4 separate regions of the Homo sapiens genome follow, and all the other regions are reported to be linked to region 1. Evidence: microRNA targets listed by miRTarBase, many of them from high-throughput screens and not tested one by one. Region 1 holds a microRNA gene; each other region holds the end of a gene's coding sequence.
The links. Region 1 holds the annotated microRNA hsa-miR-5194 (UGAGGGGUUUGGAAUGGGAUGG, at 1,609-1,630, shown strand). A microRNA usually pairs through its seed, bases 2 to 8, with sites in the 3' UTR of a target mRNA and lowers its output. Matches are read on the target gene's strand: a 7mer-m8 pairs with bases 2 to 8, a 7mer-A1 pairs with bases 2 to 7 and ends in A, and an 8mer does both.

Region 1 (5,834 bases):
TTCCTCATCTGCCTAATAGAGTCTCCTGTCACTGGCTCTGTCTGGCCGCTTTAAGCTCTTTGGAATTTACATCCAGTGCTCACTCAACAAAGCCTATTGCATGGCAGGGCTGATGGAGCCCTGGGCCTGCTTCTCAGCGCTGCATGACCTTGGGCAAATCACATCCCACTGCAGAACCAGAATTGTCATTGATGAAGCTGGGCTACTATCACCTGCTTCCCTGGAATGTTTGGAGGATTGAGTGGGATAATGTGTATCAAAGCATCTAGCATAGTCTAGCAGAAAGCCTCCATATACACGTCCTTCTCCCATGGGGCATAGTCACAGGTGGGTGAGAGCTGTATGATTTGTCCAGGGCTATCCTTCTGGCAGAGATGGGATCTGAATTTAATGCAGGGGGACAGTTTTTCATGATGCTTTTGGGCCGGGCGCAGTGGCTCACACCTGTAATCCCAGCACTTTGGAAGGCCGAGGCGGGTGGATCACCTGAGGTCAGGAGTTCAAGACCAGCCTGGCCAACATGGTGAAACCCTGTTTCTACTAAAAATACAAAAATTAGCTGGGCGTGTTGGCTGGCACCTGTAATCCCAGCTACTCGGGAGGCTGAGGCAGGAGAATTGCTTGAACCTGGGAGGCAGAGGTTGCAATGAGCCAAAATTGTGCCATTGCACTCCAGCCTGGGTGACAAGAGGGAAACTCTGTCTCAAAAAAAAAAAAAAAGATGCTTTTGAACTCCTCAGATGGCTTTATGAAAAATGAAACACTTTGCCATGTTAGTGGTTGGCGCCTTTGAAAAAGGACAGTGGCAGGTTGAGAAGCAAGGACCTTGGAGCCAAGGAGATCTTTGATTCAGACCCGACTCCCTGACTGTGAAGTCTTTTGCACATTGCATAACCTCTCTTGGCATCTCAGTGTCTGTTTTCCAGCTTGTTGTGGCTCTTAGGTCAGAAGATGTCTGAATATGCCTGACATAGGGTCTAGCATCAGTGAGTGCTCAGTAATTTGAGTCCCTGGTCTACAGAGCCTCAGTGCTGGGACTCAGGGAGAGGAACATGTAGACTAAGGGAAGTTTCTTCACCAGCCCCAGCTTTGCTCAAAACCAGAGTTGAAGTAGAATGCAGAAGACGACGTGGAAGTGAAACTTGGGCAATAACTTCCTAAAATGTCTGCTTTGCTCCCCTGAACTCTGGTTTTGTGTCTTGCCCTCTGCTTCTGGGACACGAGAGACCAACCAGTGTGTAGACAGATCAAACAGGCTTGCAAATGAAAGAATCAAATGGAGATTTCTGTGTTTTCTGAAAAGTGGTATTTTACAGTCATTCCTAAACATGCCTTCATAACTCTCAAGTTTTCAGGTCTTGAGGGAGGAGTGAGATTCATCCTGCCATTCAACAACAGAACAGTCACTGAGTGTGCACCTCCTGTGTGCTAGGCCCCGTGATGGATCCACATGGGGAATGATAGTGTGTGCCCCACAGTCACCCCACACATGTCCCTGAGGCCTGAACAGCTTGGAGAATGAAGGAGTTTGGGTTTATTTCTTTGGGTTAACTTAAACTCAGCCCTTCTAGGCCCATTCTTTTCACTCAGGAATTGGATAAGCTTTTCTGAGGGGTTTGGAATGGGATGGCAGGGAGAGTCACCAGACACCATGAATGACAGGCCAGCAGGTTGATGGTGGCGAGTGGAGCAGGAGCTAGGGAGTGAGGTCACATTTCTGGACTATGTGTGCAGGCAGCTATGGACCTGGCAGAAAGCCCCTCTATTTATTTATTTATTTAGAGACAGAGTCTCGCTCTGTCACCCAGGCTGGAGTGCAGTGGCACGATCTCGGCTCACTGCAACCTCCACCTCCCGGGTTCAAGCAATTCTCCTGCCTCAGCCTCCCGAGTAGCTGGGACTACAGGCGCCCGCAACCATACCTGGCTAATTTTTGTACTTTTAGTAGAGATGGAGTTTCACCATGTTGGACAGGCCAGTCTTGAACACCTGACCTCAGATGATCTGGCCGCCTCGGCCTCCTAAAGTGCTGGGATTACAGGCGTGAGCCACCATGCCTGGCCTGGAAGCCCCTCTTAACAGGGCTCCCATCAGGATCACGTCGTGGGTTTCTGTGATTTTTTTGGTCTCCTTTATGGCAATATTAACTTTCTTTTATGGAGCATGGAGCAAGTGTCCTGTACTTTGTTGTTGTTGCTGTTTTTGGAGATGGAGTTTCGCTCTTGTTGCCCAGGCTGGAGTGCAATGGTGCAATCTCGGCTCAGCGCAACCTCCGTCTCCCAGGTTCAAGCAATTCTCCTGCCTTAGCCTCCAAAGTAGCTGGGATTATAGGCCTGTGCCACCACGCCCAGCTAATGTTGTATTTTTAGTAGCGACAGGGTTTCACCATGTTGGGCAGGCTGGTCTCGAACTCCTGACCTCAGGCGATCCACCTGCCTCGGCCTCCCAAAGTGCTGGGATTACAGGCGTGAGCCACTGCGCCCAGCCATGTCATATACTTTGAATATTTTATTTCTTACTTTCATGGTAACTCTGTGAGGCAGGTAATATTATTCCCGTTTTACAGATGAGGAAACTGAGAAAACCTGGAGGCTGATAAAAAGCAGAGCTGGAATTCAAACATACCAGGCCAGCTTCAGTGCCCACCTCCTGTTTTTACTACCTCCTTTGGGTGAACCTCAAACGTAACTGGAAAAGTCTATGAATGGAGTTGTGTAGCCGAGAGCAGACACTGCTCCTGCTGGACCCTGCTGGGAGAGGGCGGTGGTTTTCTCAGTGGGCATCTCATAACGGCGGGCATCTCAGCAGCCCTCAGGGCCAAGAACCACCTACTGCAAACTCGTCAGCCAAGGAAGCTCAGAATTTATAATTGTGGTTGTAAGTAGATTACTTGAGCTAATGTGAGCAGTGAGGTTTTTGGTAAAGTTAGTGTGAAACTGACTCATACTAATAATCTACCTCTTGATGCATTTGGTGTTGCGATTTGTAGCACTTTGCATTGTCTGCATACATGCATCCCCACTAGAAAAGATTTGGGGGAAAGAAGGGTCCTGAGACCATACACTCTGGGGGATTGAATTTGAAAGGAAAATTTCAATGTTTGGATGCTGGTCCATGTAGACTTGAGCAAATAAGGTGCACATAGGATTTATACCTCTGCTTTCAAGTCCCCCCACCCATTTTCTATATGTGACCTTGCCAGCATACTCTATGCATGTGTTCCCCCTTCTGCAGGATTTCTTTAATCTGCTCATACCTTGGGTGTGCTTACACTTCCTGGGTGGGAGGTTCCAGATATATGTGTGTATATATATACATATATATATACATATATATATGTATATATATACACATATATATGTATATATATACACATATATATGTATATATATATAATTTGTGTTTTTAGTAGAGACGGGGTTTTACCATGTTGGCCAGGCTGATCTCGAACTCCTGACCTCAGGTGATCCACCTGCCTCGGCCTCCCAAATAAATAAATATATATATATTTTATTTTATTTTATTTTATTTTATTTTTTGAGATGAGAGTCTTGCTACGTTGCTCAAGCTGGACTCACTCTCCTGGGTTCAAGTGATCCTCCCACTTCAGCCCCCCAAGTAGATGGGACTATAGGTGCACACCACTGTACCCGGCAAGCCAGATTCTTTTTCTTCTTTTTTTCTTTTGAGACAGAGTGTCACTTTGTCACCCAAGCTGGAGTACAGCGGCGTGATCTCGGCTCACTGCAACCTCCGCTTCCTGGGTTCAAGCGATTCTCATACCTCAGCCTCCTGAGTAGCTGGAATCACAGGTGTGGACCACCATGCCCGGCTAATTTTTGTATTTTTAATAGAGACAGTATTTTACCATGTTGGCCAGGTGAGTCTCAAGCTCCTGACCTCAAGTGATCTGCCTGCCTTGGCCTCCCAAAGTGCTGGGATTACAGGCATGAGCTACCGCGCCCAGCCTGGAGTCATATTTTTAATGAGCATTCTAAGTGATTCTGATGCAGAGGTCCCTGTCACTGGGTTAGAGAAATATCTGTTAAGGGTAATCTGCCCGTTGTCATCTATTCTGAGGGTGTTGGGCGTGGGGTGGCTGGTGTGAGATGGAAAGGACAGTGGAGATCACCTAGTCCCATCTTTTCCAGCCTTTACATTTTTTTTTTTTTTTTTAAGAGATGAGGTCTCACTGTGTTACCCAGGTTGATCTTGAACTCTTGAGCTCAAGTGATCCTCCTGCCTCAGCCTCTCAAAGTGCTGGAATTATAGGTTCCCAGCTTTTAATTTTTAAGGCACAGATGGAGCTGTGAAAGAGGAAGCATCTCCCAGCTAGAGGTGACCCACCCGGGGACCCCATCACCCTAGATGCTGAGGAGGTCAGTATCTCACACAATGTAACCTCTTGTTAGAATCTCGCTTTTGGGGCTCTGATTCCAGTCGAAGGTGGAAGACTGTTCAGAGGCAATGGAAGCCCAGAGAGGTGATGTGTGTTGTCCAGTGTCACACAGGAGTGTGACAATCATCTAGGCCACTCTTCATTTAAAGAAGGAGGGACCAGGCCAGGCACGTGAAAGCCCGCTAAGGGACCCAGCAGTGAGGAGGGCGAGTTCTTTTGACCAGATAGCCTGTCCCTGGGAGGCGGGTTGTGAAGCCACAAGGCCCTGCCCTAGCACCCACCAGCCTGGGTCCTGGTTTCCTGTTCTGATCCGAGCTGGGCTGATTTTCCGCTGGTTCCTAACAGACAGACACGTGCCCCCAAGACCTAAAAGCACCAAAGGAGAAGAAACTCTGCTCAACAGAGTCACATCTTCATGGTGAAGTTCAGAAGTCAGCACAATAGGCAAAAAAATAAAAAATAAAAAATTCTGTGAAGTTCAGAAGTCAGCACAGTAGGCAAAAAATAAAAAATAAAAAATTCCTGGCCAGCCACGGTGGCTCATGCCTGTAATCCCAGCACTTTGGGAGGCTGAGGCAGATGGATAACGAGGTCAGGAATTTGAGAACAGCCTGACCAACATGGTGAAGCCTTGTCTCTACACTAAAAATACAAAAATTAGCCAGGTGTGGTGGCACGTGCCTGTAATCCCAGCTACTCGGGAGGCTGAGGCAGGAGAAACACTTGAACCGGGGAGGCAGAGCTTGCAGTGAGCCGAGATTGTGCCACTGCACTCCAGCCTGGGCAACAAAGCGAGACTCCATCTCAAAAAAAAAAAAAAAAAAAAAAATTCCTGACAATCTCCCGAGTTGTTCCTGAAGGTTGGTTTTCCATGCGCTGGTTGTGTGTGTGACGCTGTACAGGAACATCAGTGAGTCAATGCATAAAAGAAACTGCAGTAGACAATATACGATAAAGTACAATGCACAATATACAAAAAATAGAAAAAAGAGTACTATAGCTCTTTTAGAATTTGTCCAGCAGGCTTTCTAGTTTTCCCACACTAAGAAACAAAAAAACCTGTAGAAACAAATACAAATAAATACAATAGGCAAAATACACTTTTATATTATTTAAAGTTTTTAAAATGGAAAAAGAAAAGCATTTGGCCCTTTGAGTATAGCTGAATTCGGCTCAGTGAAACGAGGGTATGGCTGGGTGGCACACGCCTGCCGTCCCAGCTACTCAGGAGGCTCAGGTGGGAGGATTGATTGAGCCCAGGAGTTTGAGACCAACCTGGGCAACATAGGGAGACCCCTGTCTCTAAACAAAAAATAAAAAAGAAAATGAGGGTACAGAGGAATCCCATTGTATGTTTGATGCACTGAGGGCATCTTCGGAATGTGCTAAGTTGTCTTGATACCCAGTGGGGGTGTTACCTGTGTATGTGTGATTA
Region 2 (5,834 bases), not on the chromosome of region 1:
AGTGCTTGCAGGGCATGCAGTGGGGCCTCCTGCACTGGGCGGGAGGCTGGTGCGGCAGCGCCTTCTTCTCAGATTTCCAGGTGGTGGTGGTGGTGGTGGTGGACGGGGTCTTTGAAGTGTTTATTCCCCCCTGGGAGGATAAGCCCCCTCCTCTGTTGCCACCAGGATGAAGCTGGAAGGGGCTCTGGCTGTACAGCGGGCCATTTGGGACTAGGAGCCTTTCCCCACCCTGACCCCCGTCCCCCGCAGGGCTTGTGCCCCTGTCCCAGCTAATGTTTCACTTCTTCCTCCCCTCCCCTGCCCTCCCCCACCCCCACCTCCCCATCTGCCCATCCTGGGCGCGGCCTCTTCTGTGCTTCTCTGGTCGCTCTGCTTCTCTCTCTGCTCTCAGTAACTATGGGCCTGCCCTCTGACCACCCAGGCCCTTTGTCCAACCTCGTGCCCCCTCCCCCCCCTTTTCTGCCCCCACCCCTCCACCATTCAAGGGACCCCTCTCTCCAGATGCCCCTCTGGCTTCTTCCTTTTGCAGTTAATTTCCTTGGATTTGTGGAGGTTTTCCACTTTTAAAACTTCAGCTGGGGGCCAGCATGGAGGCGCTCCCTTCCGCTCTCTGACCCCTGACCCCTGTTTTTGTTCCAGGCCACTAAACCATCTAAAGAGATGAGCGGGTCGAATGAGACCTCGAGCCCAGTCTCAGAAAAGCCCTCGGCTTCCAGAACCTCTATCCCTGTATTGACTTCCTTTGGGGCAAGGAATTCTTCCATCTCCTTCTAGAAGCCCCTCACCCCGCTGCCCCGCCTGTCCCCCTCCCTCACTCCTGCCATTTCTCCCCTCTCTTCCTTCATCTCCACCCCACCCCACCCTACTCTCCAGACGCCCTGAGGGGTGTGCCCTGAAGAGGAGGGTGCGGCCCTCCTCAGCGACCCCTACCCATCATCTGTTGGTGTTTTTGGTTTTGTTTTTTTTTTTTTTTTTAACAATTAACTTTTAATTATCTTTTTTTAAACAGTAAAACTAAAAACCAAACACACCACCTTCCTTGATCCCAGCTGGCCTCTCGCTGGCCGCACCTGTCACATCTCTCCTTCTTCTCTTTCACCACTCTTTCCCCCAGTCCATCCTGAAGCTCCTGCACCCCCTTCCCGCCTTCCCCTCACTTCCCAAGAATACTCCAAACAAACTCTGAACCACGGAGACTTGGAGCAGTGGGAGACCCCTCTCCCGTTTCTCGATACCTTCCTGGAGGAACGCGGGGACATCGGACCAACCCATACATCAAGCCAGAGAGCGGGGCTTAGGGAGACTGGCCTTGGAGATGCCCCACTCCCTGTCTAAGCTCCGACAAGACTGTGACTTCCTCTGTGGCTGCTCTGCCTCCTCCCACTCACACCCAAGTGGGCCTGGAGTAGAGACGGACAGGCTGGAGACGAGGCCGGAGTTTGAGAGGCCTCAGGGTGGGTGTGAGGCCATGGAGTCTGTATCCCTGGGGAGGCGCTGGCCTCCTGGGCCTTGCCGTCCAGTGGGGAGTGGAGGGCAGAGGCCCTTTGGTCTGCTGGCTGTGGAGGGTGGGTTGCACGGACAGCCGGATATCGGGGACACTGCCTTGGGAGAGGGCGGCCCGGACGGGTATTTGGTACTTTTAGTTTCCTGATTTAGCACTTTAAATGGCATTAACTTATTGAATGGGGATGGGGTGGGCAAGAGTGAGGGGCCTAGAAAACCAGGTTTTGTGGCTTGCAGTTGGGGGAAGGGTCTGGTTTGAGGGAAATGGGAGGGTCGAGAGGGGCTTGACGGGGAGCACTGAAGACACCTGGGACCCGCAGGTGGGGTGACTTGAACTTCAGTCATCCTCTTGGCAATTTGAGGGTTTTCCCAGGAAAGGATGAGACGTAGTTTTTCAATGGGGCTCTGGTGACCCTGGTGAGATGTCTGAAGGTCCCTGAGGCCTGACCATCCAGCCAGCGCCCCTGGCCTGTGGACGCCCTGCCTGCCCTGCAGAGGCGGTTGGCAGTGCCGCCTGGCTTTTGGCCGGGTCCTGGGGAGGCAGAGAGAGGCCAATTTTGGTTCTCACTCCTGGCCCCCCAGAGGGCACAGTGAGGAGCCGGTAGGGAGAGGATAGGAGAAGAGGAGGAGGAGGAGCGGGGTCCCCGGCCGCAGGATTCCCACTTGGAGCACAAAGTGAAGTAAGCACAGGGGAGGGGGACTAGAATCAGTCCCCCATAGCAAGCACAGAAAGGAGGAGCTGCGCAGAAGGCAGAGCCCCCCAGACCCTGGGGCCTGGCTGGGGAAGGTCCGCACCTGGGGAGAGCTGGGAGCTGTTGAAGGTTTGGGGGGAGGGGAAACGGGTTGTGTTTCTTCATTTCTTTTTTTGTTTTTGCCTTTGTTGGTTCATCCTTGTTTTCTAGCTTTGGATCATTTTTGTACCAAGGCGAGCAAGCCTTTTTGAAAAATAACAAAAGAGGAAAAAAAAAATCCCTCCTGGAAAAAAAAAAAAACCCTGGAAAATAGAAAAAAAAAAAAGGACCTCATAAATGATGCAATTACTTTTAATTGCAGGCAACTCTTTACATTTAAGTGAAGTGTCTTAACATTTTATATTGTTTTAAAAATATATTTACATATTATATATATAATATACGTAATATAAATATATATAAATATTTAAAAAAGAAAAAAAAAAGAAAACCACGGCACTCTCCCTGGCCACTGTTTTGGCGGGGGAGGGGGGCTGGGGGGCGGGCACGTCGGCCTGGCTTCTGTGGTCCCAGTGAAATGGTCTGGTTTGATTTGGCTGTACAGAGACCCCCTGACTTGGGAGGGGAGGGGGGAGTGGTGCCCCCTCCTCCCTCCACTCCATTACTCTCTGCTTGCTACTTCGCTTGCCCCCAGCTCCCACCCTCAGCCCTGTGACTGGAATGTGTGCCCCACCGTCATTGTCCTGAGTTGAATGTCCCTTTGTGGGGGAGGTGGGGGGGGCAGTGTCCATCCACGAAGGGGCAGAAGGAGGGAGCCACGTGCCCCGCCCCACCCGCTCGGGTGAAGCCCAGTGGGATTTGCATCTTTCTTTCTCTTTGGTTCCTGCACATTTATGGGCTGGGAGGCATCCGTGTGGAATTGCGTGCAGCCTGTGTGTGTGCTGGCACAAGCCCATGCACTGTGTGTGCAGACGCATGGGGCCTGCACCCACAGGCATGGCCGAGCACATGTGTGGGGGAAGGCGTGGGCACATAGGTGCATGTAACCTGTTTGGGCATTGGCACGTGCCTACCTGCATGTTAGCGTGAGAGGAGCTTTGTGTGTGAGAACATGTGTAATGTGTGTGCAGACATGCCGAGAGCCAGAGACTTGTGTGTGGGCCACGTACATGTGGATAGAGACGCATACATGGAGGTGCATGTAATCTGTGTCTCCGAGTGTGTGTGTGCAGGTATGTGTGCTGGTGCAGACCCAAGTGTGTGGGTGTGCCTCTGTGTGCGTGTGTTCCATCATCCCTGCACCACTGGCTCCAGATCCCTTCCTGAGCCCCCGTCCCCGCTGGCCCTCTCACAGCCTGCAGCACATCAGTGCCCCCAGCTGCATGCGCCTCGCTGCTCTGTCCATCAGTGTGTGCTTGACCAAGAGAAAACTAAGACGTCTCGGGGGACCCCTGTACCTGGTCCTCTCAGCCCCCGCCCACTGTGCTGTGTTACTCGCATGGGGGATTTCCTGCCCCTTCCACAATATGCTGTTTCCCCAGGAGCCTCAGGCCTGAGGCTCTGAGTGGGGTCCCCAGGGGGCCCCCCGGGGTGAGCCCCGGCTCCACACCCTGCCCCATCCACCCTGTAGGGCCCATGTTGGTGTAGCAGTGATGGCTTCTGTGGATATTCTGTGACCTCTGTCGGTGTAACTTGACAATTTCTAAATGGAAAAGGGTTGCTGTGTTTTCTCTGTCTCTCTTTTTTAATGTCCTTTTTTCTTCTCCCCCGCTCCCTGCTCTCTTTCCTTTTCAGTTTTTCTAGCCAAGTGTTTGGGGCTTTAATAAAACTTGTTTCTTTTTCCTCTCCTGGATCTCCTTCCTATAGGCTGATGTCTCATTATTTCTCTGCTTCACCCTGGAGGATCTGGAAGGTGCTGGGATGGGTGGGGTGGCAGGTGGGGAATCCCTGGCAGCCACTGGCCTTCAGCTGGCAGAGCATGAGGGGGAGGACAGAACAGGGCCCCTGGGATTAGCCAGGTGGGGTGGTGTACACCAGTAATCCCAGCTACTCGGGTGGCTGAGGCATGAGAATCGCTTGAACCCAGGAGGTGGAGGTTGCAGTGAGCCAAGATCGCACCACTGCGCTCCAGCCTGGATGACAGAGCGAGAACCTGTCTCAAAAAACAAAAACAAAACAAAAAAAACCAGTTCTCAGCTTGGCATTCCAGGAGGTGTCCTGCCTAACCCTCACAACCATCGGTGAGGTAGCTACCGGCACTACCTACTCAGGCAAGTGACAAAACTCAGAGATGTTGGGCATCTTACCCAGAGTCATACAACTGGTAGGTTGTAGACAAACCAGTAAGTTTGAATCCAGCTCTGCCTGACACCAAAGCCCACGGTTACCCTGAAACCAAGCAGGGCTGATGACCTCCAGTAGTCCCCTGAATTGGGTCTCAGCCTCCTGCCCTTTGAGTGAGATGACCCTTGGTGGGGGTCCACCCATCTTTTCTTTCTTTTCTTTTTTTTAGACGGGGTCTCCCTCTGTCACCCAGGCTGGAGTGCATGATTACAGCTCACTATAGCCTCAACTTCCCTGGGCTCAGGTAATTGTCCCATCTCAGCCTCCCAAGTAGCTGGGACTACAGGTGCCTGCCACCACACCTGGCTACATTTTTTTGTATTTTTTGTAGAGATGAGGTTTCGCCATGTTGCCCAGGCTGGTCTCGAACTCCTGAGCTCAAGTGATCTGCCCACCTCGGCCTTCCAAAGTGCTGGGATTACAGGCGTGAACCACCGAGCCCGGCCACAAACATCTTTTCTAGATGCAGCAGCTTTCAAACCCGTAAAGTGGTAACAATACAAAATGCATTTGACACCTCTATGCTTTAGGTATGTACACACATATGCACAAACAGCCACAGCAAAGCAGCACCTGCTACACAGAGCACCATGGTGTATGCCATGGGTCCTGATTGGGTTTTACAGGCTTTCCCGGAATTCTGAAGGCTGTGCCACTGTTCCAGCATGTTCTAAGAGTCCCCGAGGCAGCCTTCCAGCTGTTCTGCGTGGCTGAGGGCTGGCATGTTACTGAATCTCTTCTCCCCCCTCAGCATCACTTCACTTCCATCCCTGAAGGTAGTGACTGTGTCCTGGAGCCACAATCTTCCAGTCATCACAGGGGCCCCAGTTGCGCTTCCTTCTCTTAAAGACCTCTTTGGAGACAGAGGGCAGCAACCTGCCTACTGTCTGCAGGGAATGCCCCTCCATGAGTCACCCACCCACCAAAGCCCAGCAACCCTTGAGACTCACAGAAAGCCAGTCCTCAGCCTGCCCGTAGCCCATCCCTATGTCCTTTTTAGAATGTCGGCAGATCTTGCCTTCTCTCTGCCATCCTATTCCCCAAAAACTGGGAGAGGAGCCAAAAAACCCCCTCTCCCAGAATCACTGCACTCATGACAGTTCAAGATCAAGTAACAAACGGAACCATCCGCTGCACGCCTGGAAGGAGGCAGGCACTCATTCACCCGCCAGATGCCTATCCAGGATGCACTCCCTGTGAGGCGCTGCTCGTCCACTCCTTGGGGCTGGGGCTCTGTCTGGCGGGAGAGCTGCCAGGACAGCCAGCAGACAGAACACAGACACCCGAGCTCAACCA
Region 3 (5,834 bases), not on the chromosome of region 1:
CCTTCCTTCCTGAGGCCAGAGGAAGAGGGTTCAGACATCCCAGAGGGGGCTCCCCGAAGGAGGCAGGGGAAGCTCTGGGGACGTCTGGCTCCAGCAGGTGCAGGCCGTGTCTCCGGGTTCCAGCCACCTTTGCCACAACTCCCAAGGTGGAGCTACACCTCTGGACACGGCCAGGCCCAGATGTGAGGTGGGAGGTGCTGGTTCCTGGGTCCCCCAGTCCCTTCCTGAGCTCTCCAGACTATCGAGAGCTCCAGGCCCAGTTGTGAGGTGGGAAGGGCTGGTTCCTGGGTCCCCCAGTCCCTTCCTGAGCTCACCAGACTATCGAGAGCTCCAGGTCCAGATGTGAGGTGGAAGGTGCTGGTTCCTGGGTCCCCCAGTCCCTTCCTGAGCTCTCCAGACTATCGAGAGCTCCAGGTCCAGATGTGAGGTGGAAGGTGCTGGTTCCTGGGTCCCCCAGTCCCTTTCTGAGCTCGCCAGACTATGGAGAACTCCAGGTCCAGATGTGAGGTGGGAAGGGCTGGTTCCTGGGTCCCGAATCCCTTCCTGAGCTCACCAGACTATCAAGAGCTCCAGGTCCAGATGTGAGGTGAGAAAGGCTGGTTCCTGGGTCCCCCAGTCCCTTTCTGAGCTCGCCAGACTATCGAGAACTCCAGGTCCAGATGTGAGGTGGGAAGGGCTGGTTCCTGGGTCCCGAATCCCTTCCTGAGCTCACCAGACTATCGAGAGCTCCAGGTCCAGATGTGAGGTGGGAAGGGCTGGTTCCTGGGTCCCCCAGTCCCTTCCTGAGCTCTCCAGACTATCGAGAGCTCCAGGTCCAGATGTGATGTGGGAAGGGCTGGTTCCTGGGTCCCGAATCCCTTCCTGAGCTCACCAGACTATCGAGAGCTCCAGGTCCAGATGTGAGGTGGAAGGTGCTGGTTCCTGGGTCCCCCAGTCCCTTCCTGAGCTCTCCAGACTATCGAGAGCTCCAGGCCCAGTTGTGAGGTGGGAAGGGCTGGTTCTTGGGTCCCGAATCCCTTCCTGAGCTCTTCAGACTATCGAGAGCTCCAGGTCCAGATGTGAGGTGGGAAGGGCTGGTTCCTGGGTCCCGAATCCCTTCCTGAGCTCTCCAGACTATCGAGAGCTCCAGGTCCAGATGTGAGGTGGGAAGGGCTGGTTCCCGGGTCCCCCAGTCCCTTTCTGAGCTCGCCAGACTATCGAGAACTCCAGGTCCAGATGTGAGGTGGGAAGTGCTTGTTCCTGGGGTCCTGAATCCCTTCCTGAGCTCACCAGACTGTTGAGAGCTGAGTGCACAGAGCCGCCGTGGAAGGGACCTGTGCTGTCTGGTTATTTAAACTCCTGTATGGATTTTTGTTGAAACAGGGTCACTAATGTGAAAGTGGAGTCCTTCGCCTGTCCAAGGTGGGTTGAGTGAATGTCCTGCTGTGGCCGTGAGGGGGGACGTGTGTTTCTTTTAGATCAGGGAACTAGAGGCCTTGTAACCTCAGAATGGCCGGAGAGATGCCGCCAGCTGGGGATGTCCAAAGAGTCTCCTACTCGCCCCTGAAGACCTGCAATGGGGAAGGAGGGGCAGATGGCCTGTGTGCGGATGGGAAGGGGGTTCCCAGTGACACTGGACTAGACGTACTAGTTAGGCCTCCCTTCCACCGATGGGGTCTGGTTCCCGCAGGCAGAAGGGGAGTCGCCCAAGCCCGCTTCTGACCCAGGAGGGAGGAGTTCCTGAGGGCTCCCTTGCTCCCCTGCCCTCAGGCAGCTGTTCCCTCCTTGTGTCTTTGGCGGAGGCCCTGGGCTGAGGTGTGTTCTCCCTCCCTGTCGGGAGTCAGCACTGTGAGGGACCACCCCAGGAGGCCTCTTCCCCTGCCTGCTTTGAGGGGGCACGTGGTTTGAGCAGAGTGGCCGTGGGTCCAGCTCGCCCCCATCAAGGCCTGGATTTCTGCTGGGGAAGTCACCAGAGACCCATCTGAGCTCCCAGCCCTCTCCCCACATGGGGCTTCAGGGGTCAGAGTCACAGCTGGAGCCAAGAGGAGGGGTACAACCGAACCCACTCTGTGTTCAACCTGATTTATGAAAAAGCAGAAGACAAATGGGCATATGGACCTTCACCCCCGGCTCCCATCACGCACTCTGGACGCCACTGCCCACCAAAGCCGTGGCTATGCGCAGCTTCTCGGGCCACGCAAGGTGGGGCACCCTTACATCAGGTGCCCTCCTGCTCCTGAGTGTATCCAGTGAGCTGTAGCCATGGGCAGGCGTGTTCCCCACCCCTTGCTCCCGACGTCCGCGTCGTCCCCTCCTTCCTGTACGGAATGTTCGCTCATCGCCGCCTCCTCCTTGTCTCCTCAGGGAATCCCCTCTTCTGTCCTGGAAAAGGCTCCTGTACCAGCAGTTTGGGAGTGCCGTCCACGACCCTGACAGTCCCAGCCCTGCTGCCCCATGGCCACGTGCCCACAGATGTGCTGTTGGTCCAGGTGTCCCAGTCTGGCCACAGCCCTGCCTCCGCCCTCACCTACATGCCCTCCCAGCCCCTCCCATCTCTGGACGAGGCCTCCTTCCTCAGGTTCCTCCTGCTCCTGACCTCCCAGTGTGATGTCCGGGTCCTTTATCATCCTATTCATCCTGGAGAGGAAAAGTGTCGGGCAAAGGGGGATCTGGGGGGAGCTCAGCAGTGACTGGGGAGCTGGTCTGCCTCAGAGACAGAGTAGGGGGTGGGAGCAGAGCCTCGGTGAGGGTCTTGGCCACAGGGCAGTGCCTTCCTGAACGTGGCAGGCTTTACTACCAGGAACGCACTCGGTGGTGGAGGCCCCATGTTCCCAGGAGCCAAGATTCGTAGCATCCTTGAGGCCATCCTGATAAAATTCGGCGCTATTGCCCCCGTAGCTCTGGAGCTCTAAACCGTCTATCTGCTTCTGTGCTGAACGCCTTTCCCATCTGCTGACGTAGGCCCAGGGCTGCCCTGCCCCTGCTGCCAGTGTACCGTGAGCGGGGCTCCAGCCAGTTCAAGCTCAGAGCCAGAGCTGGACGGGCCAGAACTGCGCTGCACACTTCCTGGACTGAGGCGGGGACTTTGGGTCCCACCCGGTTTCTCCTGATTATGGCTGCTGTGGGGTGAGGGGAGGGAGGGGCAGCCCCGAGGCAGTCTCTTCCCTTTGAGAAGATATTTTCCCACAAAGGGGTGGGAAGCCAGGAGTGAGAAGGAATTCAGGGAGAGCAAAGGAGCCAGTGCTGAGATGCTGCTGTGTTGGTTGAGGAAAACCTCGGGCCTGAGGGCCAGGCCGGAGCCCAGGTCTCTGCTGACAATGGGGGTTCAAGGAAGACGTCGTTATCTCCCCTCCCCACTTACTCGAGGAGAGAGGTGAGGGGGGGATGACTTGCGGGTTCTGATCAGGCCCCTGGGTGGGGAAGGGGCACAGTGTCCCTCAGCAGCTTACGCCCCTGGAGTCTTGGGGGGCCCAGCCTGGCCCTGGGGCCTTTTCCAGCTACTGTGCCCTTGGGCAGCTGCGTCTGGGGCTCAACCCCCCAATCCTGTTCCCCTCTCCAGCTGCGGGTCTGTAGGCAGCTGTCACATCTGAAGGGTTTCTGCAACCTGGACCCCATCTGGGTGTGGGTCAGACCCTGTGACCCACATGCCACCCCCACCCTCCACAGAGCCCCCTTGCTGGGACAGCCAGCTCACCTCCAAGGACATCCCCTCCTGGCTTCTCCCCCTTCCGAGTCTGCAGCGCCGTGGGCTTCTCTGCCGATGGGCCCGGGTTGGGGTTAAGGTGGGCATCCTCCAGGTACAACGAGCCTGAAGAGCCCCTTTCAGTGCAGACGGGGCTGCAGAGTGACACTGGCTGGGCACCTGCCCCACGACCAATGACAAGGATTTCCAGCTGAATGCTTTATTCCCATAGGGATCTGGACCTGTGCCCAAGATATAAATACTACACTTTTTTTTTTTTTTTTTAACTGACATTGTGAAATTCTCCCTATAGCTTTTGCCATTCAAGCAACATTGTGATCTTTCTTCCCCGCCACGTGTGTGGGAATGATTGAGTCCTGTTTGCAAGCTGGAGAGGAGCTCTCCCTTTGCTAGTACTTTCTCTAAAGTACTAGTCTAGTAAAATTTATTCTTGTTAGAAGGTCAACAAAATATCTGTTTAGCTTTTATGAAGAGTCACCGTAGCAGCCCCCACGGCTGGAAAGAGGCCTGTACGTTCTGGACGCGTTTTGTTGGCTGGGCTTCTGGAGGCACTGGCAAGGTCAAACTGCATTTCTTTAAGAACAGTTGCAGGATCTGGCTCGCCTCTGTGGGAAGCCGGCATTACAGGTGCTTGGTGGATGGGCCGTGTCACATTGCCATCTGGGGTCCTTTGGGGTTTCCAGGTTGTCACCATGCTGTCCCATTTGGGAATCCCATACCTGCCTGTCCCCACTGCGCTGGCTGACCCTTGCTGCCTGCTGCCTCTTGGGAGGGCTTTGTCCCTGCCTCTGAGCTGGTGGGCAGGATGGCTGGGTGGCCCCCAGAGAAGCACAGACCTGAGATGGGGTCTCCATGCCCGGTTTGCTGTTGGAATGATCTGAACAGGACCCCAAATGCCTCTTCCCTCTGGTCATGCCTCACTATCTCTAGGAGCTCCATCCTGTGGCTTCCAGAGTGTGCACTTCCAGCCCACCCGGGCAGTGCTGAGAGGGAGGAGGAGAACAAGGATGGCCCAGCCTCCCCTCCCTCCCCTAGACCACGGGGCGGGCAGCTCGGGTTCCTGGAGGGCTGTTTCCCCCACGCTGTCCCTACATCTGCTCTGATCTAAAATGTCTTTCCTTTTATGCTGCGCCCAGTCTTGGGGCTCAAAGATTTGCCCAAACCTCATTGGCCCTCGTGACTAGGCTCATCTAGATGGTGCTCACGCTGGTGTTTGAGGCATTTCCACTGTGATCTCCACGAGGGGATGTTTTCCGGGACACATCTCTGGCTCTGGGAACTGCCTGACTCACTGAAGAAACTACTTTTCAGGCACTGTAGGGTCACCCATATGCCTCCAGCTCAGTTGACGCTTAAAAACAGGTGCAGAAAAGCTCGCGATGGAAGGTCTTAATGAGAGTGTCTGTCTATGCCAATCATGTAAAATGACGTTTCTTGAAAAAGATTCAGTGGTTCAGCTTTGTCAGCATCATCTCAACACAAGCCTGCTGGCTCTTTTTAGCATCTCATCCAACCATGTCATCGTCCAGATGAGAAATCTTAGCCCAGGTGAGGGGAGTAACTTGCTTGAGGTCACACAGCTGGCTGTTGGCAAAGCTGGGATTAGAACCCTCAACCCAGGGTCCCTTCCTCTGCAGCGCCTACATGGTTGGTTGAATAAGTGGCTGCGTTTCCTGGGGCCCTGGGTTTTGGGGAAGCCAGTTAGCTGCTGCTTTGGCACTGGCATGGAGGTGAGCAGTCAAGGATGCTGGTGAGGCTGCAGTTTCTGCTCTTTTTCATCAGGGGGGATAGTCTCTAGGATTTTTCAGTGAGGACCCTTGGGCTTTGGATGCAGCTTGAACCAAGAAAACGAGGAGGGAAAGGGATTCAGTGAACTATTCCTCAGTGGGATCGGTTCTTCAGCTCCTGATGGGGGCTGTGTAATGGGGGCAGAGGCCAGGGAAAAAGATGCTGTTCACCCACCCTCAGCTTCCCTTTTCCTAAATTAAGAGGAAAAGTGGTCAAAGAAAAACTCTTCATTTCTCCCTGATTCTTAAACGAAGGTGGTTAATAGAAACTCAGGCTCCCGTGACAAGGCAGGACAAGAGCCTGTTTCGCTTTCCTCCCTGACCCTGCCAGGTGCCAACTCAAACACTACCTTTCTCATTGGTTT
Region 4 (5,834 bases), not on the chromosome of region 1:
CTGTGCCACGTTGGCCTTTGTCCTGGCCGTCACTGGCAACCTGACGCTGGTGCTGGCCCAGAGGAGGGACCCCTCCATCCACTACAGCCCCCAGTTCCACAAGGGTAAGCAGACGGGCAGGCCCAATGCCTGGCAGGGCCCTGGGGTACAGGGGGTGACTGCTCACCTTGCCCCCCCCAGTGACCGTGGCAGGCATCAGCATCTACTGCTATGCGTGGCTGGTGCCCCTGGCCCTGTGGGGCTTCCTGCGGTGGCGCAAGGGTGTCCAGGAGCGCATGGGGCCCTACACCTTCCTGGAGACTGTGTGCATCTACGGCTACTCCCTCTTTGTCTTCATCCCCATGGTGGTGAGTGTGGCCTGGCGCGGAGTGGGTGGTGGCTGTGTGGGGACACTGGCATGGTCACCTGCCGCCTCATTCCCATGGTGGTGAGGGTGGCCTGGTGCAGAGTGGGTGGTGGCTGGGGGGACTGGCATGGTCACCTGCCGCCGTGTTGCTCCCAGGTCCTGTGGCTCATCCCTGTGCCTTGGCTGCAGTGGCTCTTTGGGGCGCTGGCCCTGGGCCTGTCAGCCGCCGGGCTGGTATTCACCCTCTGGCCCGTGGTCCGTGAGGACACCAGGCTGGTGGCCACAGTGCTGCTGTCCGTGGTCGTGCTGCTCCACGCCCTCCTGGCCATGGGCTGTAAGGTACGGGTCTGGGGTGGCCACAGGTGGGGCCGAGGGGCTAGGGGGGCATGGGCTGGCCCTGCCTCTGACCCCAGGGGTCTTGTGCAGTTGTACTTCTTCCAGTCGCTGCCTCCGGAGAACGTGGCTCCTCCACCCCAAATCACATCTCTGCCCTCAAACATCGCGCTGTCCCCTACCTTGCCGCAGTCCCTGGCCCCCTCCTAGGAAGGCCCGGGTCCCACAGGTAAGGACTATTCCCAGCTGGGCTAAGGGGGCTGCCCTCCCACTCCCAGTCAAGGCGAGAGGTTCTGGGGCCACTCCCAGACAATTCTTTCTTTCAGGCAACACCTAAGTGGACCAACCCCTCTGCCTGTCCTGCCCCCCAGACGATGACTGAAGGCTCCTTTGACACCTTGAGATGATTCTGCTACTTTCCAGACTTTTCTTACAAAGCAAACACTTTTATTTTCTATGCAAAGGTGATTCAGAGAATTTATATAAAGGCGGGCGAGGGGCAGCCGAGCAGGGAGCTTTGGGACAGGGCTGGGGCCCCCATATCCCCCCCGGGCCACCTGCTTTCCCTCCTATGGCTCCCCTGGAACAGGAGGGAGAGCCAAGGGGGCGGCCCAGCCTGGACAGCGCCCGCTCCTGCCTGGGTGCACACACGGCGGGCCTGAGCTCCAGCATCTGAGTTTGGGGGTATGAGAAACAGGGGAGCAGAAGGAGAAGAAAACTGCCTGTGCTGCAACACGTTTCCTCATTTATTTTTTCTTTCTTTTTCTTTTTTTCTTTTTTTGGAGGGAGAGGTCCCTGCAAGGTCCCTTCCCGGGCAGGGGAGGGATGGAAATGCCGTCACAGTAGTAGGGACTGGAGCGTCTACAAGGATGGAGGGGAGCTACTCAGGCCTAACGTTAGCTACAAGGAAAAAGGACGCCTTCCGTGACAGATCCTTGAGGTGTCTGTGTCTGCCCCAAGTGGCCGGCAGTGGCCTTCCCTCCGGGCCCAAGGCCTGCAGCCACCTGCTCTAACTCTTGAGTGGGGGGGCGGGGGGGGACCTGCAGGGGCTCGGGGACAGGACAGCAGCAAGAGGCAGGGGCCGAGGACGGAGGCCTTCCCGACAGTGGGGTGGGTTGTACATTCAAGTGTGAGGTGAACCCTTTGGTGGGGAGGGGGCCCCTGAAGCCTCGGCGGGGCCACCCCTCCCCGCGGCGCCTCTGAGTCTAGGGAGAGGGGCTGCTGGCTCGGCCCGGCCGGCCTGGCTTCACAGAGGGTCTGCGGATTGACACTGGTTCTTTTCATAAAAAAATAAAATTAAAAAAAGCAGCATGTCACGTCCGTTGTGACCGAGGCCTGGTCGTCGAAGGGGAGGCCCCGCCTGGCCAGGCTACCTTCCCACTGGAGACAGGCAGGGGGACAGGTGCTAAGGGACCTGGCAGGCAGGGCTGGCAGGCCCCATGGCGCCTGTTCCAGCAGATGACAAGCCCAGGTCAGGGTAGAGCGGGCAGGAGGGGGGACGAGGGCTCCCACAACATGATTTTGTGTAAAATATGGCAGCGACACACGCTCAGGGCCGGGAGGTGGGGGTTAGGGTGGGGACGGCGGCAACATCGTGTAAAAAAGTGTCCCAGTTCCCATAGCAAAGAGAGCTGTGACCGGGTGTTCGAGCTTCTCCAGTACAAGGGGGAAAGCCGCCCGGCGGGGGCGGCGGGCAGGGACATCATTTGGTTTCCTGGTGCTGTCAGTCCGCGGGGCGGGCCCCTAGCTCCCGTAGTGCATGGTGTTGGTCGGGATGGACATGGGCGACGCCATGGAGATGGCGGGGCCGCCCATGGTGAACTGGCTGTTGACTGCATAGTGGGCACTCGTGCTGCCACCACCACTGCCCTGGGCGCCGGAGGACCCTGTGGAGCAGGCAATGGCAGTGAGGGGCTGCCCTGGCCCGCCCAGCCCCCAGGCAGAGTCACAGAGAGAGAGAAAGGGCAGGCAAGAGGGCAGGCGGGCGGCCGGACAGAGGATGGCGACTCACACGCTAGCTCGGCCCCCACGGGCCCTGCCCCCGCCACCCTCGTTACCTTGGACAATCCCCGTGCTCATTATGGAGCCCATCCGGGAGTGGGTGTGATTGACAATCCCCGTGTTGGCTGCGCAGCGAGAGGGAGGAAAGAAGGAAGGGAGACGGCGTCACCGCCCCCAGCCACCCAGCCCATGCACAGCAGCAGGCTGCAGAGCGAGGCAGAGAGGACGGAGAGCCTCGGCCGAGAGCCCCCAGGAAGAGGAAAAGGTGAAAGGACCAAGCAGAGGCCGACCCTGGTCACCACAGGCCCTTCCCGGCCCCTGGGCAGTCCTGGGCATGGCTCCCTGCTGCCCCTGGCCCTGGGGGACACTCACCTAAAGGAATCAGGTTGTTGTGGCCCACGCTGGAGCCACTGGCAATAACACTGCTCAAGTCATAGGCGGTCGGCATCCCTGTGTCCAGAGAGGGAGACGTCAGGGCTGGAGGCAGAGGGGCCAGGCCTGCGGCGAGGGCGGCCTCCCGGGTTGGCTGGGCATTGGGGTGGGCCCTGCTCACCTGCCACGGCCATCCCGCTGCTGAGGTTGTAGGTGCTGCCCGTGTTCCACATGTTTTCCGAGGGAGATGTGTAGTGGGAGCCGGGTGGGGGTGAGGGCGTTGTGCCCGTGTATCTATGGCAGAGACAGAGCCATGGGCAGGGGCAAGGGGGTTGCAGGGCCGGGGCGCCCCCCTGTGCAGGCAAGGGGCCCCTCCTACCTAAAGAAGGGGTTTTTCAGATCCAGGAGGTTACTGGACTTGGAGCCGGTCTGGTCCACCTGGGCCACAATACTGATGTCGTAGCTCTGTCTGCGGACAGGGTGCAGGCCGTGGCATGAGCTGCTGGGCAGATGGACCCCTGCCCACCACCACCAGCCCCAGGGAGCAGTCGCACCTTTTGTTGGCAATAAGCAGACATGTCCCTGAGAGCGTGTCCCCTGCCTTGGCGAACAGTGGTGACTGGAACAGGCACCGCACCTGGTACCAGTGGGTCAGGGGCTCTGTCGGGGCTGTGGACAGCCACACGGTCATTCTGTGGAGCAGGGACAGGCACATACTTGACTGGGCCGGCGCCACCACTGGAGCCACCACCTTGTATGCCTTGAGTCCTCCCCAAGCACCTGCCCCCTCTGCCAGGGACCCCTGGGACCCTGGAGCAGAGACAGGCTGGCCCCCAGGCAGTCCCAGACACAAACATGAGCAGGCATACATGTACACACGAGGGGCCCGCAACCACGAGATCCCTACTCACCCTGACATGTGCCAAGAGACAGACACAGACCCATGAGGGACAGACACTGGGAACACAGGACACACACACACATACACACACACACACACACACCCCACCCACAACAGTCTCTTGCTCCGAGACAGGCTCTCACTCCCATTGGAAGGGATGGTGGAACCTGGAGCCATGTTCCACCCCCCCAGCCAGGTTGCAGCTGCAGGAAGCCCTGGGAGTGGGGAGGAGGCAGCATGGGCTGCTCTGCGGCACTCACATGGAGCCGATGAAAGCAACGTCAAACCAGAAAGCCAGGCCGTGGACCAGCCCTGAATGCAGCATGTGGAATTTGAATGGGATTTCTATCCTGGAAGGCAAAGGGCAGTGGCTGCTGGGGAAGCCAGACAGGCGCTGCCGAGAGAGAAGAGGGGGTGCCAGGTGCAGAGGCCTGGGGCCCCCGCCCACCATCTGCCCTGGGACGGCAGGATGCCGGCGGGAGCCAGGGGTGGCCCTGACCTTCGGCCTGAGCCAGGCCTGGGAGGATGGAGTGTGGGTGCCAGTACCTGTGCAAATCTCCTTCTTTGGCTTCTAAGAAGTTCACCGTGTACTTGACAGACTTGGCCATCAGGATCCGGATGTCAAATGTGTCCTGGGAGAGACCACAGGTGTGACGTGGCATCTGACGCCAGGGCCAGCATGGGAGGGGAGAGCCCTGCCCCTTCCCCCAGGTCTGCCCACGGCTTCTAGGCTGTGCAGCTAAAACGAGCTTGCTCTTCCCAGACACGCCGTGAGGAGGGGACCGGCACAACGCCACCGAGGGCAATCAGGTGACAGCTCTCCAAATGACAAGTGTTTATCCACATAAAAGATTTGGCACTACAGGAGTTTAACCTCCAGATACATGAACACATCAACAAACTTACATGTATAATTAGATTGTCCGTGGTAGCGACACACTGGAAACCATCTAATTAAACCAGTGATGGCTCTCCCATCAAAGACCATGCGGACGTGAGAAAGAATGAAGAGGCTCTTTATGAACAGATGAGGAAAGATCTCCAAGCTAAATCATTAAGCAAGTTAACCAAAAAAGCAAGTTAAAGAACTAGGTGCTAGCTGGGTGTGGAATTGTATGCCTGTAACTCCAGCTACTCAGGAGGCTGAGGCAGGAGGATCGCTTAAGCCCGAGAGTGTGAATCAAGCCTGGGAAACACAGGGAGACCCTGTCTCTTAAAAACAACAACAACACTAGTGCTGCTGTCCACTCCCAGCAATGTTTATATCCGACTAACACACCTGCCATGAACTATGTAAACCGAATAAAATCCAAAGAAAAGAATAAACCAGTTGTTGGAAGCACTGGTGACCAACCAGAGCGGCCAGGATTTTGGGGATCAAGCTCCTGGAAAGGAGGGAAATGCCCTTTCTGGAGGGAGCCCTTTCTGGCCTCTACCTTTTCCCCATGGGGAGGGCAGAAAACGGCCACCTCGACCTTTCAGCAGCTTCCTTGGGTGGGGAAAGCAAAATGGGAGCTCAGGGTTACCAAGGCAGCTCGGATTCAAGGGGCTGTGATGTCAAAGCAAAGGGAAATAAGTGCAGGAGGGCAAGGTGGGCGGTGCACACTCAGTGCGCTTGTGAAATTGGCCAACTCCTGAGCTTTGAGCGAGGCAGGGCATCAGAGGCTAAGACACCAAGCAGAAAGCCGCTAATAAGAGGCTCAACGCCAGGTGCAGTGGCTTATGCCTATAATCCCAGCACTTTGGGAGGCCGAGGCGGACGGATCACCTGAGGTCAGGAGTTCAAGACCAGCCTGAGTAACACAGTGAGGCCCCATATCTACAAAAAAATAAATTAGCCGGGCATGGTGGCACACTCCTATAGTTCCAGCTACTTGGGAA

Region 2: miRTarBase lists SRCIN1 as a target of hsa-miR-5194. Seed matches in the 3' UTR shown: 7mer-A1 at 778-784, 7mer-A1 at 1,150-1,156 and 7mer-m8 at 1,213-1,219.
Region 3: the mRNA of RAP1GAP2 is a reported target of hsa-miR-5194. The part of its 3' UTR that is shown has no 7-base or 8-base seed match.
Region 4: miRTarBase lists YIPF2 as a target of hsa-miR-5194. Seed matches in the 3' UTR shown: 7mer-m8 at 1,025-1,031 and 7mer-m8 at 1,860-1,866.

Annotation. Positions count from the first base shown.
Region 1 is chr8:130,004,156-130,009,989 of GRCh38, reverse strand. It overlaps MIR5194 (microRNA 5194), which reads left to right and starts at 1,537; the gene lies at 1,537-1,656. All of the region lies in intron 1 of CYRIB (CYFIP related Rac1 interactor B), which reads left to right. The region is part of intron 1 of LOC124902025 (a long non-coding RNA gene); the gene reads left to right. It also overlaps the pseudogene RNU7-181P.
Region 2 is chr17:38,528,237-38,534,070 of GRCh38, reverse strand. SRCIN1 (SRC kinase signaling inhibitor 1) reads left to right here. Exons shown (of 19, transcript NM_025248.3): 19 at 640-4,040. The coding sequence ends at 774. Among named protein-coding and RNA genes, the nearest start is that of SRCIN1, 75 kb to the left of the region's middle.
Region 3 is chr17:3,031,049-3,036,882 of GRCh38, forward strand. It overlaps RAP1GAP2 (RAP1 GTPase activating protein 2), which reads left to right. Exons shown (of 25, transcript NM_015085.5): 24 at 1,363-1,401; 25 at 2,344-5,834. The coding sequence ends at 1,371. Among named protein-coding and RNA genes, the nearest start is that of OR1D5, 30 kb to the right of the region's middle.
Region 4 is chr19:10,918,346-10,924,179 of GRCh38, reverse strand. It overlaps YIPF2 (Yip1 domain family member 2), which reads left to right. Exons shown (of 10, transcript NM_001321439.2): 6 at 1-104; 7 at 181-347; 8 at 503-685; 9 at 773-908; 10 at 1,006-1,987. The coding sequence ends at 889. CARM1 (coactivator associated arginine methyltransferase 1) reads right to left here. Exons shown (of 16, transcript NM_199141.2): 9 at 4,500-4,585; 10 at 4,214-4,303; 11 at 3,607-3,744; 12 at 3,432-3,521; 13 at 3,234-3,346; 14 at 3,053-3,130; 15 at 2,737-2,805; 16 at 1,105-2,565. The coding sequence ends at 2,423. Among named protein-coding and RNA genes, the nearest start is that of YIPF2, 7.4 kb to the left of the region's middle. RefSeq lists a silencer at 2,969-3,148.